Linked DNA regions of Homo sapiens. The protein of the gene in region 7 interacts with the protein of the main gene of each other region in a biochemical or structural test. Each region holds a gene or a part of one and is shown on either strand. Other genes may lie near its edges.

Region 1 (2,457 bases), on a different chromosome or scaffold from region 7:
AATCAACAAAGAGTACTTAAGCCCCCATTGTGTGACAAGGGAGGTGTAGTGCCAGGTATACAGAGGTGAGACAAACAGAGTTGGGTCCTGCCCTGAGGGGCTCACAGCCCAGCAGGGGGAGGAAAGCAATGAAAAATACATGAGATTGGCAAATGGCTCACACCTGTAAATCCAGCACTTTGGGAGGCTGAAGCAGCAGGATCACTTGAGCCCAGGAGTCCAAGACCAGCTTGGGCAACATAGTGAGACTTTGTCTTTTTTTTTTTTTTTTTTTTTTTTGAGACAATTTCACTCTTATTGCCCAGGCTGGAGTGCAATGGCATGATCTTGGCTCACTGCAACCTCCACCTCCAGGGTTCAAGTGATTCTCCTGCCTCAGCCTCTCGAGTAGCTAGGATTACAGGTGCCGGCCACAACACCCGGCTAATTTTTTGTATTTTTAGTCGAGACAGGGTTTCACCATGTTGGCCAGGCTGGTCTCAAACTCCTCACCTGATGATCCACCCGCCTCAGCCTCTCAAAGTGCTAGGATTACAGGCATGAGCCACCGTGCCCGGCCGAGACTTTTGTCTTTACAAAAAATTTTAAAATTAGCTGGGCATGGTGGTGTGCTCCTATAGTCCCAGGTACCCAGGAGGCTGAGTGGGAGAATCGCTTGAGCCTAGCAGGTTGAGGCCGCAGTGAGCTATGATGGCACCACTGCACTCCGACCTGTGCAACAGAGTTCAAAAATAAATAAATAAATAAAAATAGAAAAAGAAAATGAATTAGGAATAGGAAGGAAAATGAATTAGGGGGATAAATTCAGAGAGAGGTACCTGCCAAGGACATAGCAAAAATGGCAGTGCAGTAGGGTGTGGAAGAGACGGTTTCCAATGCGCTGTTTGAGGCCGCTCAGTGCAGTTGGCATTTGAACAGACACAAGTAGCCACGATGCGGATGAAGAGCACTCTGGGTGGAGGAACAGTATGTGCAAAGGCTCAGAGGCAGGAACCAGCATGGCAGGTCCGTGGCACAGAAGGGTGGCCAGTAGCTGGCAGGAGCAGGGTAAGGGATTGCCTGAGTGGGGTCAGTGAGGTGGCACGGAAGGGGCCAGAGCATGGGGTCTCCAGGCTCTGCTCAGAGCCTGGACTTTATTGAGGGTAACATGAGCACTCAGAAGACTTGGGGTAAGGGAGCAACACCATTTGATTTTCATTTTCCCTTTTTTGTTTTTTGAGACAGAGTCTTACTTTGTCACCCAGGCTGGAGTGCAGTGGTGCAATCTCAGCTCACTGCAACCTCTGCCTCCCAGGTTCAAGTGATCCTCCCACTTCAGTCTCCTGAGTAAACTGGGATTACAGGTGTGCACCGCCACACTCAGCTAATTTTTGTATTTTTAGTAGAGACAGGGTTTTGCCATGTTGGCTAGGCTGGTCTTGAATACCTGGCCTCAAGTGAACCTCTCGCCTTGGCCTCCCAAAGTGCTGGGATTACAAGTGTGAGCCACCATGCCCAGCCTCTTCCTATTAACCATAAATTTTTTTTATAGAGATGGGCTCTCACTATGTTGGTCAGGCTAGTCTCGAACTCCCAGCCTCAGGTGATCCACCCAACTCAGCATCCCAAAGTGCTGGGATTATAGGTGTGAGCCACCTTGCCCAGCCTTGGTTTTCATTTTAAACTTCATGCACTGGGAGGGGCTGCATGACAAGTACTAGAATAAGGGGTATCATGGGGCTGTGGGAGCTCAGAGAAGGGAGAAAAAGTCTGCTCCAGAGCAGGGGGTCAGGGAAGGCTTTCCAGAGGAAGTGACATCCATGCTGAGTCTGAGGATGAATATTCAGATGCTGAGTAGGATATTCCCAGCAGAGGGAACAGCCCCATCAAAGGCACAGTTGCCTGACGGAGCCAGGCTGAGAAAGGCCTTCAATCCAGGAGCAAAGAGGCCAAGTGGAAGCAACTGCAGTGGGAGCAAACCCCCATGGAGGTCGTCTCTCCCAGTGCCCCCGCGGAGATCCGCTCTCCCAGTGCCCCCGCGGAGGTCCGCTCTCCCAGTGCCCCCGCGGAGGTCCTCTCTCCCAGTGCCCCCGCGGAGGTCCTCTCTCCCAGTGCCCCCGCGGAGGTCCGCTCTCCCAGTGCCCCCGCGGAGGTCCTCTCTCCCAGTGCCCCCGCGGAGGTCCTCTCTCCCAGTGCCCCCGCGGAGATCCGCTCTCCCAGTGCCCCCGCGGAGGTCCGCTCTCCCAGTGCCCCCGCGGAGGTCTGCTCTCCCAATGTCCCCGCTCTGACCCCAGCCTGCTGGGATGCGGTTTCCTTGCAGACTTCCCTGCCCCCTTCACCTGGGTCACAGGCTACTTTGCCATGGTGGTGGGCGCCAGCATGACCTTCGTGGTCCAGAGCAGTTCTGTGTTCACCTCGGCCATCACCCCACTCATCGGTGAGTGCCCATGTAGAGGTGGAGTGGGGTGGGCCAGGGCT
Region 2 (3,500 bases), on a different chromosome or scaffold from region 7:
TTCAGAGAACTCAGTTGCACAGGATGATATCACTTATAATCAGGAGTCAATATGGGTCAATCTGAGTCCAAAGCCCATGCTCTTTCCACTGCACAAAAGATAGCCAGAAAGAGCCAGAGGCAGACTATCACCACAGGAGGCAGGCAGGCTGGAATGATTGTGGTGGTGCCAGGCAGGGATCATTCATCCATCCACTTGGCCAGTCTTTTTGAGATGAAGTTTCGCTCTTGTTGCCCAGGCTGGAGTGCAATGGTGCTATCTTGGCTCACCGCAACCTCCGCCTCCCGCATTCAAGCTATTCTCCTGCCTCAGCCTCCTGAGTAGCTGGGATTACAGGCATGTGCCACCACGCCCGGCTAATTTTGCATTTTTAGTAGAGACAAGGTTTCTCCATGTTGGTCAGGCTAGTCTCGAACTCCCGACCTCAGGTGATCCCCCTACCTTGGCCTCCCAAAGTGCTGGGATTACAGTCATGAGCCACTGCCCCCACATTTGACCAGTCTTGTAATGTGCATCTACTATGTGTTTGGCACTGTATAGACCAAGATGAAAAAGATATGCATTCAAAGATCTCTCACAGTAAGGTAGGAGAAGACAAGGAAACAAAAGAATAAAAAAAAGTTACATAGAATCTATACTAGAAGTCTGAGGTGTGTGCCCTGAGGAGGGGGCAAGCGGAAAATGTAAAAAGGAAAAAGGCAGATCTAATGAAGGACCTACAGAGACTCAGCACAAATATTCTCTTGAGTTTTCTTCTAGTGTTTCTGTTTTGATTATTTTGCTTTGGGTTTAGTTTTTTGTTTGCTTTGTGTGTGGTTTCTTTTAATTTAGATCCTTAGTCTAGCTGGAATTTTAAAATATGATCTAACTTGTTTGCTTCTACTAGTAACTAAAGCTTTTTTTAGACTCAATTGATATTTTCTCTTCAAGCTATTGATATGTTCACTCTCTTGGTAAATTTCTAAATGTAATACTGTCTTACATTCCTGGAATATTGAGTTTGTATGACAAAGTTGGTTGGTTTATGATTCTTACAAGTTTTCTTTTTCTAGCTTTATTAAATGATAGAGAAGTTTCCACTTTCCCTAAGTCTTGAAGTCTTTAAGTAGAAATTACATGTTTTTGAGAGGTTATGTAGAACTTGGTTCCAAATCTCTTCATCCTGGCTCCTTTTTAAATAGTATTTTAAGTTACATTTCTAACTTCTATAGTTATTGCATTTACATTTTCTATACCTTCATGGGTTATTAGCTGCATACAAATTTTAACCTTTACATTGATTCTTTTATCATTAACTGTCCCACTTTATATCTAGTGATGCTTCTTGATTTAAAATCTATTTGATCTTAGTATAGCTACGTTAATTTTCTTTTGATTATCATTTTTGGATATATCTTATTTCATCCTGTTACTTTCAAACCTTTTGTGACTTTAAAGTGTTAGCCTGTAAGCAGCATATAAAGTTTTGTTTTTAACCCCATCTTTGTCTTTTAGTTGGAGTATTTAGTCCTTTTACATATAATGTTAACTCATATTTGGGTTTAAATCTGTTATCTTACAATTTGCTATTTTCTTATTTGTTCTATATTCTAGTTTCTTTTCATTCTTACCTTCTTTTGGACTAATCAAGAATTGTCAATTCATCATTCCCCTTTATGAGCTTGTTATCCATTGTTTTAAATTACTTCAATGATTACAACATTCCTTATTGACCTTAGAGTCTAAAACAAATTATTACTTGTAACACTTCTCGGATAGTGCAAAAACTTTAGAACCTTTTAGCTCCATCTATCCCTGTTGTCTTTTGGGTTTTTCCCTATTTACTAAATGTCTTTTTTAAACCCATAAGACATCATTATAGCCATTCTATTCACTATTTCTCACATATTAACCCCTGTTGCTGTTTATTGCTTTCTTCATTTTCATGATTTTGCCTGGGTTCCTCATTCCTGAAGAATTTCCTCTAGAATATCATGTCGTTTGTTCTGTTTTTCTTATCCTAAGCATCTTTATTTTGCTTTCATTTCAAACACATTTTTGTTCAGTATAGAATTCTAGGTTGACAGTCATCTTTTTTTTTTTTCAGCACTTCATAGGTGGCAAATCCAACATTCCAGGCTTATATTTTTTGTTTGTAAGAATCCAGCTGTCAGTCTTATTTTTATTCCTTCAGAAACATCACCTTGTGCCACGCCCTGCTGCTTCAGAATGTTTTGTCTCTATTTTAGCAACTTTATCATGATGTACTTAGTTGTGAATTAGTTTCTGTTTTTATCCTGCATGGTGTATGTACTGATTCTTAAACTTGTGACTTTGGCCACTTTGACAAAACTCTTGGTCACCATCTTTTCAAATATTGCTTCTGCCCCATTCTCTCTCTTCCTCATGTCTGGGACTCCAATCTCATGTATGCTAAACCTTTTACCTAAGTTCTTTATAACTCAAGCACTTCTACATTTTTTTTTTTGCTTTGTTCTTCAACTTTTAAGTTCAGGGGTACATGTGCAGGATGTGCAGGTTTGTTACATGGGTAAACGTGTGCCATGGTGGTTTGCTGCACAGATCATCCCATTACCCAGGTATTAAGCCCAGCATCCATTAGTTATTCTTCCTGATGCTCTCCCTCCCACCTCCCCCCACCAACAGGCCCCAGTGTGTGTTGATCCCCACCATGTGTCCACGTGTTCTCACGATTCAGCTCCCACATATTAGTGAGAACATGCAGTGTTAAACACTTCTACATTTTGTACATTTTTCTCCTTTTATTTCTTGAGATAGCTTTACTGACTTTTCTTCTTCTGTTACTAGTCCTCTCATCAGCTACTTCTAATCTGCCTAAGACCCATCTCTTGTTTTCTTAATTTTAATTCCTACACTTTTAGTTCTAGATTTTTTCATTTAATTCTTTATAAATTCCAGGTTTTTAGAATAATTCTCCATGTTTTCATCTATTTTCTTAAATATTAATCACAAGTTATCTGGATCTCTCTTTTCTGGGTTGTGGGATTACCTAGGGATTTCTCTTTTCTGAGTTTTGGGGTTGTTTTTCTCTTCATTCTGTCTGTTGATATGTCTGGTAATTTTTTTAATTGAGTACTGTGTATGCCTGATAATTTTTTTTTTTTTTTTTTGAGACAGAGTCTCACTCTGTCGCCCCCGCTGGAGTGCAGTGGCGCGATCTCGGCTCACTGCAAGCTCCACCTCCTGGGTTCACGCCATTCTCCTGCCTCAGCCTCCCAAGTAGCTGGGACTACAGGCGCCCGCCACCACACCCGGCTAAATTTTTTTTTGTATTTTTAGTAGAGATGGGGTTTCACCATGTTAGCCAGGATGGTCTCGATCTACTGACCTCATGATCCGCCCGCCTCGGCATCCCAAAGTGCCGGGATTACAGGCATGAGCCACTGCGCCTGGCCGCCTGGTAATTCTTTTTAATTGAATACTGGACACTGAAATAAAATGTTTGGGTGTTTTGTTGATACTGCCTTTCTCCAGAGTGG
Region 3 (3,500 bases), on a different chromosome or scaffold from region 7:
CTGGCTAATTTTTATATTTTTAGTACAGACAGGGTTTCACCATGTTGGCCAGGCTGGTCTTGAATTCCTGAGCTCAAGTAATCTGCCTGCCTTGGCTTCCCAAAGTGCTGAGATTACAGGCATGAGCCACCATGCCAAGCCAACAATCCTTTATTTGGCATAGCACACAGTGATACACTTTGGTACAAATCTGTTTGAGACAGGAGAGAAGGGAGACACTCTGAGTTGTAAGCAGCCCTAATGCTGCCACAATCTCCATTTACTAAGAAAAAGTAAAGGATAAAACAATTCACATACAAGGCTAACTCCTGCTACCGTGGAATACTGCTGCATGGATCCACTTATATGCAGATTTTTTTCAATAAATTCAGTCACCCCTCCGTATCTGAGTGTTCCACATTCACAACCAAATGTGGATCAAAAATACAGTTTCCTTGGATGTGAAACCTGCTAATGCTGACTTTATGTATCCACAAGTTCCTCAGGGTCAACTGCAGGACTTGAGTATGTGAGGATTTTGCTATCTGTGAGGAGCCATGGAACGAATGCCCCACAGATACTGAGGGACAATGGTATCATTTAATATGAAGCACCAGCAGATGAAAATAGACAAAATAGAGAAATAGTTATTAATAAATGGAATGAGAGATGTAAAGTTATCATCAGTTGAAGAAAATTAGATTGTTTAACTCAAAACTCCCAAAATATTAACTGAAAATTATTAGAAGCATGAAGAATGCAGTAAGGTACTAGGTACAACACTGATATTCATATGCATTAGAATACTTAGGCAGAAACCATTAGAAAACTTAAGGATCCCATTCATAATATAAGGATCCCATTCACAACAGCAATAAAAGATATTAAACATTCAAACAAATGTTCAAGATTTACATGAACACCACTATAAAAACTGATATGGTTTGGTTCTGTGTCCCCACCCAAATTTCACGTGGAATTGTAATCCCCACATGTCAGGGGAAGGACGCAGTGGGAGGTGACTGGGTCATGGAGGCAGATTTCCCCTACGCTGTTCTCATGATAATCAGTGAGTTCTCAAGAGATCTGATGGTTTAAAAGTGTGGCACTTCCCCCCTCACTCTCTCTCTCTCTGCTGCCATGTAAGACACGCCATGTTTGCCCTTCGCCTTCCACTATGATAGTAAGTTTCCTAAGGCCTCCCCAGACATGGGGAACTGTGAGTTAATTAAACCTCTTTTCTTTATAAATTACACAGTCTCAGGTATTTCTATACAGCAGTGTGAAAACAGACTAATAAAACAACTCCACAGAGGAAATAAAAGAAAACTGAAACAAGTGGAATAAGTGTTCTTGGATGGCAAGAGCCATTGTTACAAAGCTATCAAATGTCCACTAAAGTAATCTAGGTATTTAATGTAATCTCAATGAAAACATCAACAGAACTTTTTCTTTTCTTTTTTGAGACAGAGTCTTGCTCTGTCACCCAGGCTGGAGTGCAGTGGCATGATCTTGGCTTACTGCAACCTCCACCTCCTGGGTTCAAGTGATTCTCCTGCCTCAGCCTCCTGAGTAGCTGGGATTACAAGCATGTGCCACCATACCTGGCTAATTTTTTTGTATTTTTAGTAGAGATGGGGTTTCACCATGTTGGTCAGGCTGGTCTAGAACTCCTGAACTTGTGATCCACCTGCATTGGCCTCCAAAGTGCCAGGATCACAGGCGTGAGCCACCGCGCCCAGACATCAACAAAACTTTTTAAAAGAACTACATAAATTGATTCTAAAGTTGATATGAAACAAATAAACATGCCAGAAATAGCCAAAGAAAAGTATGAAGAGAGTCATAAGGGGTTTGACTAGCCCTATCAGACCTTAAAACCTATTTTACCACTTCAGCAACTAAAACAGTAAATGAATAGACAAATCAATGAAGCAATGAGTGCAGACATAAACCCAAATATGTGTTAGATTTCAGTACATAATAGATGGCATTGCATATTTTAGAAAAAAAGATTGATTAATGATGTTGGGTGAAGAAGTCATTTGGAACAAAGAAAGATATATTTCTTTATCTCACTGTTTACATAAAAATGAATTCAAGATTAATAAAAAATGTTGTCTAGGGTGTTCTAAGAGCTCTCATTGTATTAGCTCATTGAATACTCTTAACCTTATTAGGTAGGAACTACCAGGATTTCCCATTTGACAAATGAGGAAACTTAGTTCACATAGACAACAAGTGCCAACACTGGATTCAAACCTAGGCAATTCTTTGTTCTTAACTAACCACAAAATGCAGAAACTCCAGCAGGAAAAAAAATAATACATCTACATAAAAATAAAAAAATTTCTACATGGCAAAAGTAAACACCACACACTGTTTTAAATAGCCAAAGTCTGGAAATTTAGAAATATCCATAATGTGCACTCCACAATACAAAGGAGTACTTCATAGTTGTTTAAAAAATATGAGACAACTTTATAAGAACTGATTTTAAATAATCTCCAAGATAAATTAAAAAAATTAGCCAAGGTGGTTTTAAATATATATTTATATGCTTGCTATATGGATAGAGTATTTCTTGAATGAAAAAAGGTAACAGTATCTCTGGGGAGAGGAATTTGGGTGGATTAGGGACTGGGTGAGACAAAGTTACTTTCGCTGTGTACTCTTTATCTTTAAAATTTTTTCCATGTACATGTCATGTCTATTCAAAAAGTTAAAATTATTTTATAATTATAAAAAGTTGTTAATTATAGCCAGAACAGAATGATTCACCTTTGCCATCTCTGCTGAAAAGAGTATATTCTTTGATCTACCTGAACATGAAGTACAAGAATACAAAACAATTATCTTAAAAAGAATACAAAAGAAACAAAGCAATGATCTTTACATGAGCTATGAAAATGTGCAGAACAAATATTCTTTGTAACAAAACAAATCTTTTAACCAAACAAAGCCTCTTAACCAAATCTCAGCCCTTTCCTATCCACTCCCTTCTTTGGGCTACTGTCCATCACATCTTCTCTCAAATCACTCTCTTTCATTGGCTTTGATGACACTATCATAACTGTGCTACTCTGTTTCTTGTACTGATCCTCCATCTCTTTGGCTAGACTCTTTTTCCTTACCCTCACACTGAGTCATCATACTAAGGTATGGTTTTTAGACCTCTACCACTTTCTTTCTACCCTCTTTTTTATACAGAGATCTATTCTCTCAGTGTCAATCAATTTTCTTCATAGTGGACTCTAAAACTGAGCCCGTAATTTTCAAATTCTTTACTTGATGCTTCCTTTACAAACAGGTTCCATTTCTAGCCTTCCAAGTGTTTATCAGTGGCATCTTTATTCCTCTGTTTTAGACTTAGCTGTTTAAAAACTGTGATATAGGTGGTATTTTACAGATAAGAAAACCTATCTTCAGTTTTCCACTGACACATTGCTACTATATGGGAGAGGCAGGATTCAAATACAGGTGCAGCTGATTCTAAAGACCACTCTGTTAATCTCTATTCA
Region 4 (2,888 bases), on a different chromosome or scaffold from region 7:
ACAATCTCTAATCACCTAAGAGTTCATAAAATACATATTGGCTCTGTCTGTGGTTAGATTAAATGCCATTATCTAAAAAAAGTAGGATCTGTGCAATAATAGGTCTGCCATGTGAATGACAGTTTTGGTTAGTGGATGAATTTATCCTGTATCATTGCATTCTCTAAGAATAATCCCTCTCACTCTGAACAAATAAATCAATAGCATTGGCTAACCCAGTGCATGTAAAAAACACCTTCAGTAAATGCCAGGTTTTCCCGAATAATAAAGACTTCCAACAATAAAGACTTCTTTTAAGTCTGTTTCTTACATAACTGTTGTATGGAGAGATTAACATGGTATCTTGTTTCTTCCTGGTGTGATCTTACTTTTGTCTTGTAAATATGTACTTATGTCTGTATGTTCACCTGCATCTTTGTGAACCCTTGGAAAACTCAGTATTTCAGTGGGTTTCAGAGAATAGGCCGGGAGATTGATGATAAGTAAGTGTTTCCGGCCAGTTGTTATTAGGCACAACTTTTAGGAGAAACAAGTGAGCGATAGAGCGTGGCCAAGGAGAGGAAGGCAATGCTGGAACCCAATCCATGCCTGCTGCCCAGAGACCTTAGCTGATGGCTTGTCATGTCTTAGCATGTTGGTATTCAAGCCATGTGATGTTGGAAAGAAAAAATACCTATTCAGCTTGGGGCTTGGTCTGAGAACAACCAATTGCCTTGGTTTAAATCACACGACTCCACTATCAAATTAAGTGTTTCCAAGTTTACACAAATTAGCGTCAGTCCACTGACTGTCGCCTACAATAAATTAGGCTGAGTCTAAAAGAAATCAGTCTGCATAGAAAGACCAACAACCAGCACCACTTCCTTGCTTTTTCCAGCCATGAATGCTTCCAGTCGGAATGTGTTTGACACGTTGGTAAGTGGAGGCTGGGGAAATCACCTCTCTGGAAAGCCAGGCAGATAATGTTTCATCATTAATGCAGTCATGGAAACTCAACGTTATTCAAGTGATCAATCAGGGGGTACTTCTTCACTCTACAGAAATCTTCTTTACCTTTAAAAGTAAAATGAAATTAAGGGAGGCTAGAGGAGCAGGGTGCTGGGAAAAAAACTCAGAAGTTGGTGTGTTAGGAGCCATCTCTGGAATTATAATGTATGACAAAGAGAATGTGGATTCAATTGATAAATGTTGGTTTTAGAATTTACTATTTGAGCTGAGAGTCACTCTCTGGAGAGCTGGGTAAACAGTGTGACCCTGAATGCACCTGGGAGAGAGGTCAGTCCACATGGGTGTAGACCAGGGTAAAGGATGTGTGTACAAGGAAAGGAGAAGACCATTTCCTTCTCTGTACCTCACATGCACCATCCCCTAATCCTCACTGGGGACTTGAGGTCAGTGAGGGCAGTGTGGGATGAGAGGAGGGCCCTCTTGACTATGTGCATTGCTGTTTATTCTCTTGGCAGCATTTTCTTTTTTTATGTCTTTAGAACCTGCCCTCAACATTTCAAATCACCACAGCTGTGGTTTTCTCATCACCGCTTCGACTTGGCGTTGGCTTCTTGTGTTTTCAGCTGGGTTAAGGCCTTGAACAAGACACTGTGGGATATCACTATTATTTAAAATGTATCACTCAGTTGGTTTCGCTTCCTAGTTCTTACGAATAAACACATTTTTCAAGGGGGATTTTGAAATCTATTTTAAAAACATATTTGCATTTAATGAAAAATACCCTGAAGACATTGCGGACCAGGGTGGGCACACCTTGATATTCTTGGGCATGGGGGAGGAGGTAATCTAGCGTTTATGACTTTGGGTTTCACCACTGTCAGGTGTTTATGGGACAGGCCCTTCACCATTTTGCTGTACAATGGAAGTCACAGTAATGTCATCTATAAAAAATCAATTGAGCAAATAGGATTTTGAAAAATGTAATTCATTCACTGAATTATTTCATTTACGTTTACTGAATAAACAGTAGGCACTCATCAACTGTGCTAGCAATTGTGATATAGGAATGAATAAAGTATGGTCTGTCTTTATGGAGTATTACTTAAATCAGTGCTCCCCAGTCCTCCAGCTTTGGAGTAGGGAAGGAAGTGTTAGATGTGTTGATGGTGGCTCTCATACTATTCCTTTTGGGAATCTTGGGAAACCGTGGGGAGAGAGTAGGAACAGGCTTGTAGATTTATGGAGAAGCCCTATGAGACCATCTGGTTGGATCTGAGCTCTGTTCTAAATAGTGTTCAGCATTTAACAAAAAGAAATATGACCAATACTTGTCTGAAAATATTTTAGGGAAGTGTGACTTTAGAATATAACATTTGATAACTGAGACACGGAGTGGTAGAAGCTCCCCTAGACTAGAGGCAGGGAGCCCTATATTCTAGTTGTCATCCTGCCACTGGCTAGGTACATGCATTTGGACAAGTTATTTAAATTTTCTAAATCTCAGTTTTCTCATTTGATAAATGAGAGAACAGAATTGAATTAGGATTTTTCTTGATATATGAGTATCAATAGAAGTACATAGATGATTTAGGTAGTATATTGATGAGTGTTTTATTGGTCAGTTATTCATTTTTCTATATCTCAAAAACATACATAATGCTTCAAGTTTGTGATTTCTCAGAAATTATTGCTTAACATAAGGCTAAACTTATGAGAAGGTGATTTAAGTAATATTCAATAAATAAAAATACAGGTCATAATTGGTTATTACAAACATATTTAAGGTTGTGTGAGACTAATTGAGGTCAGGAAACACTTGAATATATAATCACTTAGTTTGTCTTCATTTCTAGCTCTCTGTAATTATTTTGCCTCTTTATGTTTGAGTAACATGGTCTTCCAGTGGAAAGTTTCTATCAGAAATAGCATTGTGGTATCCA
Region 5 (3,500 bases), on a different chromosome or scaffold from region 7:
CATTTTACTTGTGTTATCTCATTTGATGCTCACAACAACCTTGTGAGGTAGGTATTATTGTTATCATCATCATCCCCATTTTAAAAGGAGGAAATTGAGGCACAAAGAGATTAGGTAGCATGCCCAAGGTCGCACAACTGAAGATGGTAGGTTTGGAATTTGAACCGAGACAGTCTGACAAGATATATGAGACTAAAGTCAGGAATTTTAAATTGGTTAGGCTTCTTATTTACAAATCATATAATCATAGAACTACAGGATAAAAATAGTTATTTCAGAATATCATAATATCTAAAATTAGTAATTCTGAACCTTTGTCTTGGCAAATGTACCATCAATTAAGACAATTTTTACAAATAAAGGCAGAAACAAAATAGGGATAAGATGCAGAAGAGAATAACAGTCCTACCATATATTTGGTTTAGTATTTTCTTGTGCATAGAAACCAGTCATGAGTTAAATAAGGCCTAAATTTGAGAAGGTTTTTGGTTTCATTATCTAATTTCTATTTTATTCCAAATTATTTTCCCAAACAGAAGAGAACATACTTATTGTTTGTGCCTACATATATAAAAAATGACCTGATAAAAGATATGAGATAGCTAATCAACTTCAGAAATTATTTCAAATTTGTGAATTATGTTTGTAAGTATCTTTTTGGAAGTTCTAACTAGACAATTATCCAACAAAATAATTAAGTGAAATAATCTTTTTTCTTTGAAAACAGCTCTTCAGTTTTGTGTTTGTCATGGACAGATTCTGACAATATATACATGTATGGCTCTGGAAATTTGAAGGTGACTTCATTAATTAATTGTGTTTATTAATTGTGAATATCTCTGAATTGTCTGCATTTGAGAAAATCACAATTGTGCTTTCCAGATCTGTAGGGAAAAATGTCCACATATAAGTCAAATTCTCAGATTGGCCCTTGTTACAATCAATCACTACCTCTTGAACTTAAGAAATAAAAAATATTAAATAAAATCAAAGGAAGATAAATTTCCAAAATTAATACAAACAGAAATACGCTAATTATGTGTTGACATGTTATGTATGTTTCAGATCACCAAGTCAACGGTTCAACTACTTTACCAATCTCCATAAATACGGATGGATAATATAATTCAAGATGCCCTTCTAAAGAGGATTACTTTGGTGAATTCTCTAATGTTTGGATTTCTGAAGTAAAAAGAAAAGCTATTACCAAAGTTTAATGAGGCCACAGCATTTTTTAAAGTTCATATTATTTGCTATTTAAAGTATATATTTTTTTGATATAAAAATATAATTAAAAAATTTTTTTTGGTGGAAGACAGATGATGCTCAAATTTCTTTTCCATTAAGCAGTTGTTTCTGGTGATGAAGAATGATTTGGTAAAGCAGTTAACAAAACATTTTCCAAAGACACCAGAGGGTCTGTATAGTACTGCAAAGCAGGACTGAATCCCTTCTGCTGCAAATACTGGATTCGACCTTGGTCAATCAGCAATTTACAAAGATGCCCTATTTTCTTCTTTTCTTCAACACTAAGAAGCCTAAATTGAATAAACACACACAAAACATTGTTAAAATTTTGCAAAAGTTTATAAAAAATTATTTTTGTCACTATTTATTGAGAGACTGTTAACTAACCCATAATGTACTAAGTACTTTGTCCCATGCTTCCAAGACACATTATATTTATGACCACAATAAAAGATGTGTATATTTTAGCTTATTCTAAAATTAGATTATAAAATACATTTTCATGAATTGTTGATAATAGTCATCTAAAGTACAGTACAATATAATATTTCTCCTTTAGTATCATGCATTACAAAAGTAGTCTCTTACCCAGGCAAACAATCAGCGCCATCATCTGTGATTCTGTATCCTCCATCATCATGCTCTTCACTATCATCATTCTGATTATCTTGCCTCTTTGTGGTACTATTTGAGGTTTCCAAAGATGTTTTCCGCATCCCACAAGTTGCCCAACTACTCATTCGCTGGAAATAATGGAATTCCACTGCTCCAAGGCCTAGAGCCCTGAAATATTCTTTGCCCACATAATGTCTCCAATCACACCTGTGGTGACAACAGAGTGCAATAACAATGCCAGCCACAGGGTTCCACTTCTCTGGGACATTTTTTTCATTTCCTTCCTTGGCCAAAGTGTAAATTTCTTTTTCTGTTTTATCATTCTTTATGCGTTTGGCTAAAGGTTCTTCATTCCTTTCCTCAAAACTGGCAGCATAGGTTTCAACCAAACATCGTAATGCAAGATCTGCAAACACAATTATGTGGCCCCCCCAAACCACATCATCTTTAAAAATAAATACTTTTTACATTTATTAAGCAGTACTGTTTTTAAAAACTCAACAATAAAAACAGCAAAAACCTACTCAGCTTTATATTTGTAATAATACTATCATGAATTATCAACTTCATTCAAATTTGCTCTTCTATCTTCTCAATTTCTTTAATGATTTATTCTGCATAAAGCCTACTTCCCAATAAAGCTATCTGAAGCTTAAGATCTACAATTTGAAGAACTTTTACCCAACTACCTGAATTGTCTCTCACTTTTCCTACCTTAGCTGAGGAAATGACTTGTATGGGAAAACTTTATTCACCTACACTTACATTCTAGTTTAAGAAAGGAAAAATGAAGGAAGGAAGGAAGGGAGGGAGGAAGGGCAGACAAATCTGTTTAGGTTGATGCTAGGTCAAGATGCTTGTCTTGAAGAGGCTCATAGCAAATAGTGATGAACTGAAGAGTTGAAAAGAGGGCGTCAGAACAGAATCTGGAAAGCAGGCCTCACTGAGTAGCCTTACTGTATTTATTCATTTATTTAACAAACATTTACTGAATGCCTTTCATGTGCAAAGCACTGAGGATACAATTATTAATATACACAAACTTAAGAGGCAGATGTACTCCACATTACAATGAAAATATTTTAGTATATTTTAAAACTAAATAAATGGATTTTTGATGACTATGGCTATTTCCCATCGAAAACTCCTACACTGTTGACAATACTGGAAAGACCCAAAATGTAGGACCCATATCTTCTTAATCATTAGATTGTCATGTTGTGTCTGTTCAATCAAAAACATATACATATTTTAAAATTTTATTACCCTAAGATATCACAAATGACTATTAAATGATCTGATATTTCACTAGTAAATTTAATTCAATATATGAATTTAAGTCAACAAACATTAGAAACCCATTATTTGCAGAAAGTGATAGCTAATCTATTATTTCATAAACTATTATTTTCTGACAAAATACATTTAGTCATTGTTTTATTCATATTTGACTTAAGTAAGTGATTTTCAGAAATGTGAATAACCAGATAAATTATTAAAAGAATTAAGTTATTTCAGGCCAGGCGCAGTAGCTCACGCCGGCTGAGGTGGGCAGATCACGAGGTCAGGAGATGGAGACCTTCCTGGCTAACACGGTGAAATCCCGTCTCTACTAAAAATACAAAAATTAGCCGGGC
Region 6 (2,424 bases), on a different chromosome or scaffold from region 7:
GAGTGCTTCAGCATTTTTCACACCAAGTGATGGGTGTTACAAACGTGTTATGTATTGATTAAAAGCAGACCTTTACAAAAGCATCTGAAAATTGTGAGCTACTGGTTTAAGGATTTATACTCAAAACTTTTAATTCAACATAGCTTTGACTCAGTTTGTTTCCCTATCTGACAGTCTATCAGTCGGGTGCTGGGGCCTGAACTACGTTTCAAATAACCTTTATATAAGAAGTCTGTTACTAAAGACGCAGTATTGTTACCTCTCTGTTATTAAAAATATAATGCTGGGTCGGGCACGGTGGCTCTCGCCTGTAATCCCGGCAATTTCAATGGTCGAGGCAGGTGGATCACCTGAGGTCAGGAGTTTGGGAACAACCTGTGCAACATAACGAAACCCTGTCTCTACTAAAAATACAACAATTAGCTGGGCGCGGCGGAGCCCGCCTGTAAGCCCGGCTCCGCCAGAGGCTCAGGCAGGAGAATCACTTGAACCCTGGAGACAGAATTTCCAGTGAGCCGAGATGGCACCACTGCACTCCAGCCTGGTCTTCAGAGCGAGACTCCGTCTCAAAAACATAGTAAGACTTACAATATGATACTGTGGAAACAGACACCCTACAATGTGCATGCCTAATGGATTGCCTACCTTCTTCAGGCGTTTTCACCTCCTCTGGATTTGGCGGGTCCATCTCCTGCCCATCAGGACCATCTTCACACTCACACCCAGTCTGTGGGTGACCCTGTTCCTGGCTATCAGCTTCAGGCTTCGGCCCTTAAAAATAAAAAATACGTATCAATTTAAGCAGTAAAACATAACGCATGAATAAGAAAATAATATTCACGCTCTCGGTATTATTATATAAAAGCTTTAGCTAACATAATAATAAATGTGTTGATAAGAATCCCAGGAACATTATTTCAGGAGTCCGTTAGCAGAAAACAGGAAAACAAGGTGTTCCAAATATTACCCTCTTCCTTTCCGAAGACTGCCCTCAGACAACTTTGCTGCCTCCTTTGCACTTCTCTCTTATTCTACTTCTGATTGTCCTTCTCGTATTAAATGACTCAAGGCTCAAATCCCGTCTCTCACAGCACTTACACTCCTAGCGCTTAGACTCTTACATGGCATGAGTAGCCACCAATAAACGCTGAGTGAGAAAACTCTTTTAAAAATACATGAAAAAGCCCAAACTGCAGAATATTCTGCAAACCAACTGGTCTATCCTCTCCAAAAATGTCCGTATCGTGAATGACAAGAAAAATTAAGGAAACATTACAGGTTAAAGGAAACTAAAAACACCTGAAAAGCACATGCAAGGTGTGATTCTGAACTGGACTCTGGATCAGAAAAAGAAATCCTATCAATAAAATTATCTGGGCCGGGCGTGGGGTCTCACGCCTGCAATCCAAACATTTTGGGATGCCAAGGTGGGCAGAGCAGGTGAGGCCAGAAGTTCAAGCCCGCAGTGGCCGGCGCCTGTAGTCCCAGCTACACGGGAGGCTGAGGCATGAGAATCCCTAGAACCTGGGAGGTGTGGGTTGCAGTGAGCCGAGATCGCACTACTGCACTCCAACCTGGCCCACAGAGAGAGACTCCGTCTTCACACAAAGAAAAAAAAAAAGGAAAAAAGAAATTTTCTGGGGAACTGGCAAAATTTGAGTATGCACTCTGTATTAAATGACTCCATTTTCTCATTGTTAAATTTCCTGATTTTCATCTTTGTGCAGTGATGATCCAAGAAATGACTTTCTCTTTGTTCTGACGATATACACACCCTCAAGTACATAGGGTAAAGGACCATAATACCTGAAACTTTATCGAGACAATTCAGCATTAATAACAGTATGTATGTGTGTGTGTGTGTGTGTGAGTGTGTGGGCAGCACGGTAAGAGACGGAGGGAAGAGATGTGAAACTGATGAAGCGAAAGCTATTAACAATTGGTGAATCCAGATGAACAGTATATGAGTTCATTGTACTATTCTTGCAAATTTTCTATGAATGCTATGTCTTGAAGATACATACAGTAAAAATTTAAAAGAATATATGATAACTGCACTGAACTTTAGGAAGAAAGGAATTTCCAATTGTGGTAAAAAATACAGATATCCTAAAATTTACCATCTTAACTATTTTTAAGTGGTACAGTTCACTAAGGAGTTACGTTTGCAACATTACCAGCCACTAGGCACAAAAACTTTGCATCTGTGTTTTCCTATACCATGAAAACTTTACTTATTTAATGAATTTATTTATGTATTTATTTATTTATTCATTTATGTATTTATTAGCGATGAGGTCTCACTGTGTTTCCCAGGCTGGGCTTGAACTCCAGGACTCAAGCAATCCTCTCACCTCGGCCTCCCAAGTAGCTGGGACTATGAGTGCATGGCATTCAGCCCAGCTTTAGACCTTTCTCCTAAAT
Region 7 (3,121 bases):
AACCAAATACTGCATGTTCTCACTTCTAAGTGGGAGCTAAATGATAGTATCTTATAAACACAAAGAAGGAAACAACAGACACTGGGGTCTACTGGAGTGGGGGGTGGGAGGAGGGGGAGGAGCAGAAGAGATAACTATTGGGTACCAGGTTCAGTATCTGGATGATGAAATAATATGTACAATAAACCCCTGTGACACGTGTTTACCTATGTAACAAAACCTTCACATGTGCCCCCAAACCTAAAAGTTAAAAAATGCAAACAGTTAAAAAAAATTATCAACGCTAATCAGATATCCTCCATTATTATCTCTAAACCTTAGTTCTACCTATAAATGAAACACTTTTTTCCAATAGTAAATATTTCTTTATATATACAAAAATATTTTACCAGGAGTATATAATCTCACAGATTAGACATTTCAATAATTTTTGTTTTGGACAGCACATGGAAATATGTGAAAAGATTTATAGGGACAGTTTCTGAAAAATCAATACTTAATTGTACCACAGGAAAATTTTATTTATACAACAGCAATAATGTTTCTTTTATACAGAAACTAATAATACAATTACCTGGAAAGCAGTAGCAATTAATTTTTCTTTTTAAACTTCTTAATCAGAAACTTTAAGCAGCTTGTTCAGCTTTGATTTTCAGATTGCTAACAAGCATTCTGCCCTCCATTTTTTTTTTTAAAGATTCTCTTCTACAGTTACTTCAAAAACTAGAGGTTTAAAAAAGCATGCGTCTTGTGTTCAAATAAAAGACTTACCAAAACGAACTGGCGTGGGGGGAAAAGGAAGAATAAAAAATTCCCACAGCAAGGTTTTCACATCAAATACTCACCATAGGCTCCAACAGAGCTCAACATAACATGGAGAAATTGCACTTGTTGCTGAATACTAGTGCTCATTCTTCTACAACAGAGTCCAACATATCACTTCTTTAAAAAAAAATCAGTGTTACTGAAGAGACAGGAGCCAGTCAGCAGTTCTTTTTAAAAGAGAATACAGAGACATAAGAAATATTTTTATTGTATTTCAAATACAGATGTAGCTGAGCTATGCCTGAAATCTGGTTCTACCTGAAAAGATGGAGGCATTTCTCATTTAGACCATGTTTACCAGGACAAGCTTTATGTCTTTAAAGCAATGTTACTTACACTACTGTCCACCTCTCCTATTTAAGAATAAGATGAAAACCACACATTTTAACTGGTAATGACTTCTGGTTTAATGTTGGTAATTTACAGCTGATGAGTTTTTACATCAGATGAGTATGCTTTTTTCCTGTTTTAGTTAATTAGGCTTCCTCCAAGCTCCTAGGCTACTTTGATAGGAGGAGAGCCAAATTTCATATATGACCTGTCATATTTATGTATGTTCCTTCCCCTGGCTTGCTGTTGGCTGAAGTACAATAAAGACATCTATTTCCAATTTTAAGACCTTTTTGGCTTCTGTGGTAGCAACACCACCTATTTCATAAGATTCAAAGACAGTTGCTTTACAAGCAGTAAATCACTCAATCTTCTGATTGGTGGCATTTACCTTAACTATAGATGTGTTCATTCCATTTACACTGGAGATTAGAAAACAGTAAGAGCCAGTAGGAGGGGAAAAAAAGGAAGAGAACTATCCCTTCTGATCGACTTTTGTATGTGGAGATAAGTCAAATTTATCACACCATTGCATTATCAGCCAATGACTGAGAAGCAATTACAAAGTAATAACTAAAGTGGATTAATATCTGGATTTTGAGGTTCACAAACTAAGACCTCACTGTGAATGTTTCTTTCTATAAAGAAATAGATGCCTTTTTAAATTAATGGTATGGGTAAAACAGTAGGGCTGCAGTGATTTCAGGTATGCAGTGATTTCAGGTATAAGGATAAAGTAGGACAGTTTTCGGGGGCAAAGATCAGAGTCTTCTGGTGTAACCGAGTACTGGATTGCTTGCTTACATTTTGTTTGATTTGTGAGTGGTCTGGTTGGCAGCAAGGATTTGCTAAGGGTTTGGATTTAGTATGGGATTATAAGATAAAAGGGACTTTCTGATTAGGACTAAGAGAGCAGAACAGACCTTCCACCAGCTGAAACTGTATCTTTGGGGCTATTTTAAAACTGGAAGAATTCCTGAAAAGTATTCACCATTCACTACATTACTTCAGAAACAGGTACACTTTAAAATAACTAAAAGAGAACAGATAAAGTAGCCTAATAAGGATTTTTCAGTTCACCATATCACAGCTACCACATCAGAGTTACAAATTACAAATCAGAATTTAAGGCGAAGACAAATATTAACTTAGCCTTACTTAACAAGTAGAATAGTAATGATAAAGGGAAATATAAATTTCATCGAAGATCACACAGTCAGAAGTCAGAATTAGGATCTTGGCCAGTACCCTGTCTTTACTTTTATCACTAGAGAATATTTTTTAAAAAGTACTGCAGTGTATTGCCAAAGTGGTGTGAACCATGCTTACTTTAGAAATGAGATATCATCATTCTTTCACTGTTTAGTATATTAAGGACTCATGTTCGAATCTCTGCATTTTTCAAAAACTATTCCAAGAACACAGAAGCTAGCATGATGAATTATGGGAAATATTTTAAAAAGAATATAAATTGCAAAACGTTAGAACAAAAATGCAATTTAAAAATAACCTTACCTTAAAAAAATTATAGAACTGTCATCTTCCTCAGGTATACAATATATGCTTGCATAAAAACTGACAAGATGCTCAATTATTAGTCAAATGTATTCTTAAATTTTGTGAGTATTCATTTGTACTATATACAATAATCCCATTATTTAAAAGAATGAATTTCTCCCAAAAATTCCAAATACATTACAGATGTTATTACATGAATTCTCACAGCAAACCTCTTGAAATAAGACAAGGGCAGGTATCATAATCTCAGCCTGAATCATATTAAAGATTCATTCAAAAGTTTAAATAAGAATTTCCAAAGGGGTTTCCATCCAGAACCCTGCCCTTTTTCCCTAAGAAAATTAAATTTATTATAATAATGACTACTTTCTGAGTTTCTCATATATTTTTCAGAAAGATTATCAGCTTCAAGGTGGAACCAGAGCGTTTTAAAACAATCTAAAAAAAG

Evidence for each region.
Region 1: the proteins of PALS2 (region 7) and SLC34A1 interact in a test that uses a peptide from one of them, tested with the Homo sapiens proteins (one large-scale study listed by IntAct).
Region 2: the proteins of PALS2 (region 7) and HTR2A interact in a test that uses a peptide from one of them, tested with the Homo sapiens proteins (one large-scale study listed by IntAct).
Region 3: the proteins of PALS2 (region 7) and RAPGEF6 interact in a test that uses a peptide from one of them, tested with the Homo sapiens proteins (one large-scale study listed by IntAct).
Region 4: the proteins of PALS2 (region 7) and KCNJ1 interact in a test that uses a peptide from one of them, tested with the Homo sapiens proteins (one large-scale study listed by IntAct).
Region 5: the proteins of PALS2 (region 7) and TRMT13 interact in a test that uses a peptide from one of them, tested with the Homo sapiens proteins (one large-scale study listed by IntAct).
Region 6: the proteins of PALS2 (region 7) and GAGE12J interact in a test that uses a peptide from one of them, tested with the Homo sapiens proteins (one large-scale study listed by IntAct).

The regions. Positions count from the first base shown.
Region 1 is NC_000005.10:177,394,434-177,396,890, forward strand, and holds part of SLC34A1 (sodium-dependent phosphate transport protein 2A), read left to right. Parts: intron 1-2,299; coding exon 2,300-2,416; intron 2,417-2,457.
Region 2 is NC_000013.11:46,887,054-46,890,553, reverse strand, and holds part of HTR2A (5-hydroxytryptamine receptor 2A), read left to right. Parts: intron 1-3,500. UniProt on the Homo sapiens protein: G-protein coupled receptor for 5-hydroxytryptamine (serotonin).
Region 3 is NC_000005.10:131,457,230-131,460,729, forward strand, and holds part of RAPGEF6 (rap guanine nucleotide exchange factor 6), read right to left. Parts: intron 1-3,500. UniProt on the Homo sapiens protein: Guanine nucleotide exchange factor (GEF) for Rap1A, Rap2A and M-Ras GTPases. Does not interact with cAMP.
Region 4 is NC_000011.10:128,840,409-128,843,296, reverse strand, and holds part of KCNJ1 (ATP-sensitive inward rectifier potassium channel 1), read left to right. Parts: intron 1-827; exon of another isoform or gene 828-879; coding exon of another isoform or gene 880-915; intron 916-2,888. UniProt on the Homo sapiens protein: Inward rectifier potassium channels are characterized by a greater tendency to allow potassium to flow into the cell rather than out of it.
Region 5 is NC_000001.11:100,146,663-100,150,162, reverse strand, and holds part of TRMT13 (tRNA:m(4)X modification enzyme TRM13 homolog), read right to left. Parts: coding exon of another isoform or gene 3,491-3,500; exon of another isoform or gene 2,270-3,490; coding exon 1,837-2,269; exon of another isoform or gene 1,539-1,836; coding exon 1,343-1,538; 3' UTR 1,122-1,342; coding exon of another isoform or gene 1,066-1,121; 3' UTR 796-1,065; coding exon of another isoform or gene 728-795; 3' UTR 1-727. Other genes in the region: LRRC39 (leucine-rich repeat-containing protein 39), read left to right, coding at 728-795. UniProt on the Homo sapiens protein: tRNA methylase which 2'-O-methylates cytidine(4) in tRNA(Pro) and tRNA(Gly)(GCC), and adenosine(4) in tRNA(His).
Region 6 is NC_000023.11:49,325,037-49,327,460, reverse strand, and holds part of GAGE12J (G antigen 12J), read right to left. Parts: intron 772-2,424; coding exon 646-771; intron 1-645.
Region 7 is NC_000007.14:24,691,573-24,694,693, reverse strand, and holds the end of PALS2 (protein PALS2), read right to left. Parts: 3' UTR 501-3,121; downstream 1-500.